2 linked regions of the Homo sapiens genome follow. The protein of the gene in region 2 purifies or fractionates together with the protein of the main gene of each other region. This does not show direct contact. Each region holds a gene or a part of one and is shown on either strand. Other genes may lie near its edges.

Region 1 (3,500 bases), on a different chromosome or scaffold from region 2:
TTAACTTCTTTGCCATGGGTTCAAACTTCCTCCTTTAGCTCGGAGTAGTTTGATCATCTGAAGCCTTCTTCTCTCATCAAACTCATTCTCTGTCCAGCTTTGTTCCATTGCTGGTAAGGAGCTGCGTTCCTTTGAAGGAGGAAAGGCGCTCTGATTTTTAGAGTTTCCAGTTTTTCTGCTCTGTTTTTTCCCCATCTTTGTGGTTTTATCTACCTTTGGTCTTTGATGATGGTGACGTACAGATGGAGTTTTGGTGTGGATGTCCTTTCTGTTTGTTAGTTTTCCCTCTAACAGTCAGGACCCTCAGCTGCAGGTGTGTTGGAGTTTGCTGAAGGTCCACTCCAGACCTTGTTTGCCTGGGTATCAGCAGCGGAGGCTGCAGAACAGCGGATATTGGTGAACAGCAATTGTTGCTGCCTGATCGTTCCTCTGGAAGTTTTGTCTCAGAGGAGTACCTGGCCGTGTGAGGTGTCAGTCTTCCCCTACTGGGGGGTGCCTCCCAGTTAGGCTACTCAGGGGTCAGGGACCCACTTGAGGAGGCAGTCTGTCCATTCTCAGATCTCCAGCTGTGTGCTGGGAGAACCACTACTGTCTTCCAAGCTGTCAGACAGGGACATTTAAGTCTGCAGAGTTTTCTGCTGCCTTTTGTTTGGCTATGCCCTGCCCCCAGAGATGGAGTCTACAGAGGCAGGCAGGCTTCCTTGAGCTGCGGTGGGCTCCAACCAGTTCGAGCTTCCCGGCTGCTTTGTTTACCTACTCAAGCCTCGGCAATGGTGGGCACCCCTCCCCCAGCCTCGCTGCCGCCTTGCAGTTTGATCTCAGACTGCTGTGCTAGCAATGAGCGAGGCTCCGTGGGTGTAGGACCCTCCGAGCCAGGCATGGGATATAATCTCCTGGTGTGCTGCTTGCTAAGACCATTGGAAAAGTGCAGTGTTAGGGTGGGAGTGACCCGATTTTCCAGGTGCCCATCTGTCACCCCTTTGACTAGGAAAGGGAATTCCCTGACCCCTTGCGCTTTCCGGGTGAGGCGATGCCTCACCCTGCTTCGGCTCACGCTTGGTGCGCTGCACCCACTGTCCTGCACCCACTGTCCAACAATCCCCAGTGAGATGAACCCAGTACCTCAGCTGGAAATGCAGAAAGCACCCGTCTTCTGTGTCGCTCATGCTGGGAGCTGTAGACTGGAGCTGTTCCTATTCGGCCATCTTGGCTCCACCCGAAAAGCTTTAGTTTTATAGTTCTACTTTGAACTCTGATTTATCTGTAATTTATTTTAGTGTAAAGAATAAAGTTGGAGTCTAGCTTTATTTTTTCCCCAAATGGTTATACAGTTATCATAATGCCCTTTAATGTTTAATTCATTTCTACCTACTGATTTAAGGTGTCATTTTTAATTTTTACCATATAATAAATTTGCATGTGCATTTGATTGTATTTCTGAAATATAATCTTTTACATTGATCTATTTGTGGGTTGCACTAAAATGTTTTAGTGGTTGTAGCTTTATAACGTATTTTAATATCTGACAGCATTAGTCTCACTTTATTACTATTATTTTTCATAAATTTCTAGATATTTTAATGTGATTAGTATAATCTGTTGGATTCCAAAAAAAAAAAATGCATGGTGGTATTTTTTTTTTTTTTTTTTTGAGACAGGGTCTTGCTCTTTTGCCTAGACTGGAGTAAGTGGCAGGATCACAGCTGACTACAGCCTTGACACTGCCCCACCAGCCCCTCTCCCTCCACCCCACTCTAGTGATCCTCCCACCTTAGCCTCCCAAGTAGCTGGGACTATAGGCGTGCACCACCACATCCAGCTAATTTTTTTTTTTTTGTAGAGATGAGGTTTTGCCATGTTGCCCAGGCTTGTCTCAAATTTCTAGACTCAAGCAATCCATCTGCCTCGGCCTCCCCAAGTGCTAGGATTACAGGCATGACCCACCATGCCTGGCCACACGGTGGTATTTTGACTAGATCCACATTAAATTCACAGGCTAGTTTAAGGAACAGGACAATTCTTACAATTCTGCCTTCCTGTTGAAAAACAGCTTATATCTGAAGTTATATGAGTTATCTTTTTATATATCTTTGTGAATTTTAAAGTTTTTTTTCATGTTGGTATGAATATTTCTTATAAAATTTATATCTTTTTGTTGCTACTGTAAAGATAATATTTTCCATTATATTAAACTGGTTATCATTTGTATATAGGAAGGCTACTGATTTTTGTATATTGATTTTATAAATATGATATTTTTACTTTTGAAAATATTTGCAGCAATAAAACATTACCTCTGTAAATCCAGAATTTCATTTGCAATATCTGTTCCAATACTACCAGCACCAAGTACTGTTCCAGTAGACATTCCAGGTACACTCATACAGGACTGTCTAGAGGATTCTAAGTAACAGCAAAAGGAGAAATTCAGTTGAGGACTTTATCTTTCTTTCAATTCAAATAATTTCACAGTTCTCTCCTTAAAAGAAACAGACTAGCTGCATCCAAAAAAGTTGGAAAACACTCATCCTTGCATTACATATGTAATTCATGATGCTCTTTGAATCAAATGTGTAGAGTCACTGAGGGCACAATTGTGACTAGTAACCCTTGACTCCAGTCTCTTGCCACTTTAATCTCCACAGCAATACTACTTCAATGTTTCCTAAGATTTTTATTTTTACAAATAATACATTAATATATTCCTGTGGTGAAAAACTCACACAGATAAGCAAAAACTCCCCCAATACTTTTCGTTAATTTGTCCAAGAGTGTCACAATTGACAAGGAACAATGTTAGCTGCTAGGGCTGAAAAATGGATAAAACATCATTCCTGCCTTAAAGAACTGTCTACTGGAAAGCAAGTTGAATGAACAACTAATTGCAGTATAATGCAAGATTATAACAGAAAAGTGAGCAAAGCACTGTGGGAATTTTGAGGGGGACATGGTGATACCTCTGGGAGTTTAAATGGGATATCTATTTCCCGTTGAATTTAGTCTCTTCTAAACCAAAGTTGGGATTCCTATAACCCAACCTGCAGAACTACTTTTAATTTCACCTTCAAATTTTCCCCTCTCCAGGACAGAAAAAGATAGTAATAGTCTTAATAATATGTCTTAGTAATAAGTCTTCCATCATCTAAAAGTAAGCTTACCTTCTGATGATTGAGAGCTACAAGGTAAAAATGATGCTTCTCCAGGCTCACTATGTCCCCTAGAATTAAAAACACCATAGGTGATTTACTTTCTAAGGTGAAGGAAACTGTTATAGCAACTACACTAAGATCTGTATATTTAATTTGTCAATTTGTGGCCCATTTATGTTTTATATACACATATTGTTAGTATCACCACCAGAAATCAAGGTCTTAATGTGCTAAGTATCATGGTGTTTGCCAAATGCCCCATTCCTCTATAAAGTATGTGTTCTCACAATAACAAACTCTCAGTTCCTGTACTAATAATAAGTAGGCAAAGACTACTGGGATGGGTGACAG
Region 2 (4,488 bases):
GCAACCTCTGCCTCCCAGATCAAGCGATTCTCCTGCATCAGCCTCTCCAGTAGCTGGGATCACCATGCACAGCTAATTTTTGTATTTTTAGTAGAGACGAGGTTTCGCCAAGTTGGCAGGGCCAGTCTCAAACTCCTGACCTCAGGTGATCCGCCTTCCTCGGCCTCCCAAAGTGCTGGGATTATGGACATGAGCCACCGTACCCAGCCTTTTTTTGAGACAGAGTCTGGCTGTGTCACCCAGGCTGGAGTGCAGTGGCGTGATCTCAGCTCACTGCAATGATCTCAGCTCACAGCAACCTCTGCCCCCTGGGTTCAAGCGATTCTCCTGCCTCAGCCTCCCGAGTAGATGGGACTACAGGCATGCGCCACCACACCCAGCTAATTTTTGTATTTTTAGTAGAGACAGAGTTTCACTATGTTGGCCTGGCTGGTCTGGAACTCCTGACCTCAAGTGATCTGCCCGCCTTGGCTTCCCAAAGTGCTGGGGTAGCAGGCGTGAGCCACCGTGCAGGGCCCCTCTTGTAATGATTTCTAATGTGACTAAAAACATTTTCCTTTATTCCCTCTTCCTCCCCAAATATTACATGATAAATATACATTAATAGAATACAGAAAAATAAGCATTTATGGTAATGTCATAATTTTATCGTCATTAATTAGAAGTGGTTCTAAGCAAAAGTGGTCATGTAGTCTCATTACTTGACAAAAGAAGTCTTAAGATCAGCTCTTTAAACTTCAGGTTGTCTTTTTTGATTGGCAGACATCCTCCAATTTAACAGGCTCATAACAACCTTGTAACAGCTCAGCTTATTTTATTGGAGTACACTTTACAACTAGTTCATCTTGGTAGATCCACTTGAAAGCTAATGCTTTAAGTGGATATTCTTGGCTTGTGATTTTTCTTTTAATGTCCAAAGTGGGCATTCAGATTTAAATGTGTACCTGTTACTTTATTTCAGCCACATTCTCTGGCACAGAACTTTGGAAACTTTGGGGATCACTTACTTATCTTGGAGATAGAATGTTTTCTAAGGTATATTTGAGCCTACCTGTGGATTATGCCTTTACTCGTTGCTAAAGGGAGAGAAAGAGAAAAGATATGGCTTTCATTTTAGGTTTCAACTTTCATAGGAGGCTGTCATCAACTCAGAAAATGTAGAAAATTTAAATATCTATTAAAGCATTGGGACCATTCACTTAGAAACCTAGAATATTTGTTAGCTAAGGATTGGTTTGAAGGATACGTTTTTATTCCCCTAAGCCTGACTACTTAACCAGGTTGTGTTTCAGGACTGCCTGAACAACATTATTTCATATTCTTTTGTTCTGCTTCTGGAGAAGATATGTATTAGTTCTAAGGTAGTGCAGGGACGTGTATATTTTGAAAGGGTTTCCCAGTGATTGTGATGATATGGTGTCTCTTGTCACAGATCACTGTTCTAGTTACTATTTATAAGAATTATCTAAAATACTTACAATACAGATTCTAGGCCCCCACTCCATAGCTGGAGAATCAGAATCTCTATGGGTAGGGCCTTCTACATCCTGTCTTTGGGTTAAACCAAACCTTAGGAATGCTGCTTATTTTGTGTATGTGCATGTGTGTGTTCTTGACTGCTTTCCCTTAGAGGTATTTAGGTGGAAAAGCATCATGAAATTCGTTATTTTACTTAAGAGTGTTCTCCTATGAGAGGGATTTTTCTGAAGTCTCGGTAACAAGAATAGTTGTGTTTCCCCTGAGCAAGTTGTTTTGCTTTTTTTTTTTTTTTTTTTTTTCCACAGAGACTTGCTCTGTCGCCCAGGCTGGAGTGCAGTGGCATGATCTTGGCTTAGTAGCTGGGACTACAGGCGTATGCCACCATGCCCAGCTAATTTTTTGTATTTTTAGTAGAGATGGGGTTTCACCATATTGCCCAGGCTGGTCTCGAACTCCTGAGCTCAGGCAGTCCACCCACCTCAGCCTCCTAAAGTGCTGGGATTACAGGCATGAGCTACCACGCCCGACCATTTTGCTTTTTTATATGGACACTATGAATCATGGACTGATAGTGTGTTACACTTAGCAGCAAGGAAGCTCTGAGCCAATTTGTAGCCTACCTTTGCATCAGGGGTGGCTTAATCAGACTTAAAGACCTATTTGAAATTCTCTGCCTAAGTTGGAGTCAAAACTGCTCAAGGTTCAAATAGTATTACAGACCTGTTTAGTCTTTAACTATTAAAAAGAACTACCATGTTCTCACTCATAAATGGTAGCTAAATAATGTGTACACATGGACGTGGATAATGGAGTGATGGGTAAAGGAGACTTGGAAGGGTGGGGTGGAAGAGTGGGGTGGGAGGGAGTAGATGAGAAATAATGAGTACAATGTATGTTATTTGGGTGACGGATACCCTAAAAACCCTCACTTTGCCACTATGTGGTCTATGCATATAACAAAATTGTGCTTGTACCCCATAAATGTATACAATTATTTTAACCTCCATGTCAGAATCCACCCTTCCTTATTTAGTGAATTGCTCCTTTATTCAGTGATTCTTAACTGAGGGTATGCATACATCTTTGGGGCTGAGTGGAAGAAGGTGGTGGTAGTGAGATGCCCTTTCTAGGGATACAAAATGTGCTAGATTTGTTTGTAACATACATTATTGAAAACAAGTTAAGCCATAACTATAATTCACCAATAAAGGACTTACAGGTGTTCATAACTTGTCTAAGCTCAAATCTCCCATATATAACTTGCTGGCAAATCATTTATTCCAGGGCATTAGCTATGAGTTGCTAGCTTTAAGTTGAACTATATCCTGTCATGGCTTACTTCGAATTGACATGCTGCAGGCTGTATCTTGACATATACAAGATAGCATGTGATGTGGCTTTGTTTTAATTCAGTTAGCCACTGGTTTTTAATGTGTGGGTTATATTTTACTCCCAAAGCAAAATTCTGTGGCATCTCTGGAATACTACCTGAGAATTTTTGTGTGCCATGTCGAAGAAACGCAAATGGGATGATGACTATGTTCGCTACTGGTTCACCTGTACAACGGAAGTAGATGGAACTCAGCGTCCACAGTGTGTGTTGTGTAACTCAGTATTTTCAAATGCTGACCTCAGACCATCAAAACTGTCAGACCATTTTAACAGACAGCATGGTGGTGTAGCTGGGCATGATCTCAATAGCCTGAAGCATATGCCAGCACCATCTGATCAGAGTGAAACCTTGAAAGCATTTGGAGTTGCATCTCATGAGGATACTTTATTACAAGCATCGTATCAATTTGCGTATTTATGTGCCAAGGAGAAGAATCCTCATACAGTAGCTGAAAAGTTAGTGAAACCTTGTGCACTGGAAATAGCACAAATAGTTTTGGGACCAGATGCACAAAAAAAGCTTCAGCAGGTACCCTTATCAGATGATGTGATCCATTCTAGAATTGATGAAATGAGCCAGGATATCTTACAGCAAGTTCTAGAAGATATCAAAGCCAGTCCTCTTAAAGTGGGTATTCAGCTTGCTGAGACAACTGACATGGATGACTGCAGTCAGCTAATGGCATTTGTGCGCTATATAAAAGAAAGAGAGATCGTAGAAGAATTTCTCTTCTGTGAACCATTGCAGCTATCCATGAAAGGAATAGATGTGTTCAATCTCTTCAGAGACTTCTTTCTGAAGCATAAGATAGCACTTGATGTATGTGGCTCTGTTTGTACTGATGGTGCCTCCTCTATGCTAGGAGAAAATTCCGAGTTTGTTGCCTACGTGAAAAAAGAGATACCTCATATCGTAGTTACACATTGTTTATTGAATCCTCATGCACTTGTCATAAAGACATTGCCTACAAAACTGAGGGATGCTCTGTTTACTGTGGTGAGGGTAATAAATTTCATCAAAGGGAGAGCTCCAAATCATCGCCTATTTCAGGCTTTCTTTGAAGAAATTGGCATAGAATATAGTGTCCTCCTTTTCCATACTGAAATGAGGTGGCTTTCCCGAGGCCAAATACTTACTCACATTTTTGAAATGTATGAAGAAATAAATCAGTTTCTTCACCACAAGAGCAGTAATTTAGTTGATGGCTTTGAAAATAAAGAGTTTAAAATTCACCTAGCATACCTTGCAGATTTATTCAAACACTTAAATGAACTCAGTGCATCTATGCAGAGGACTGGGATGAACACAGTATCAGCTAGAGAGAAGTTATCTGCTTTTGTTAGGAAGTTTCCATTTTGGCAAAAACGAATTGAGAAAAGAAATTTTACCAATTTTCCTTTTCTTGAAGAAATAATTGTTTCAGATAATGAAGGCATATTCATTGCAGCTGAAATAACACTGCATCTGCAACAATTGAGCAACTTCTTCCATGGATATTTTTCCATTGGAGATCTTAATGAGGCAAGTAAATGGATATTGGATCCATTTCTTTTTAATATCGATTTTGTTGATGATAGTTATTTAATGAAAAATGATCTTGCTGAATTACGAGCTAG

The links.
Region 1: the proteins of FAM200C (region 2) and BMAL2 purify together in Homo sapiens (affinity purification with mass spectrometry; 2 studies listed by BioGRID and IntAct, with this or other methods). This does not show direct contact.

The regions. Positions count from the first base shown.
Region 1 is NC_000012.12:27,402,336-27,405,835, reverse strand, and holds part of BMAL2 (basic helix-loop-helix ARNT-like protein 2), read right to left. Parts: intron 3,218-3,500; coding exon 3,159-3,217; intron 2,404-3,158; coding exon 2,295-2,403; intron 1-2,294. UniProt on the Homo sapiens protein: Transcriptional activator which forms a core component of the circadian clock.
Region 2 is NC_000005.10:160,393,989-160,398,476, reverse strand, and holds part of FAM200C (protein FAM200C), read left to right. Parts: intron 1-961; exon of another isoform or gene 962-1,035; intron 1,036-2,937; 5' UTR 2,938-2,986; coding exon 2,987-4,488.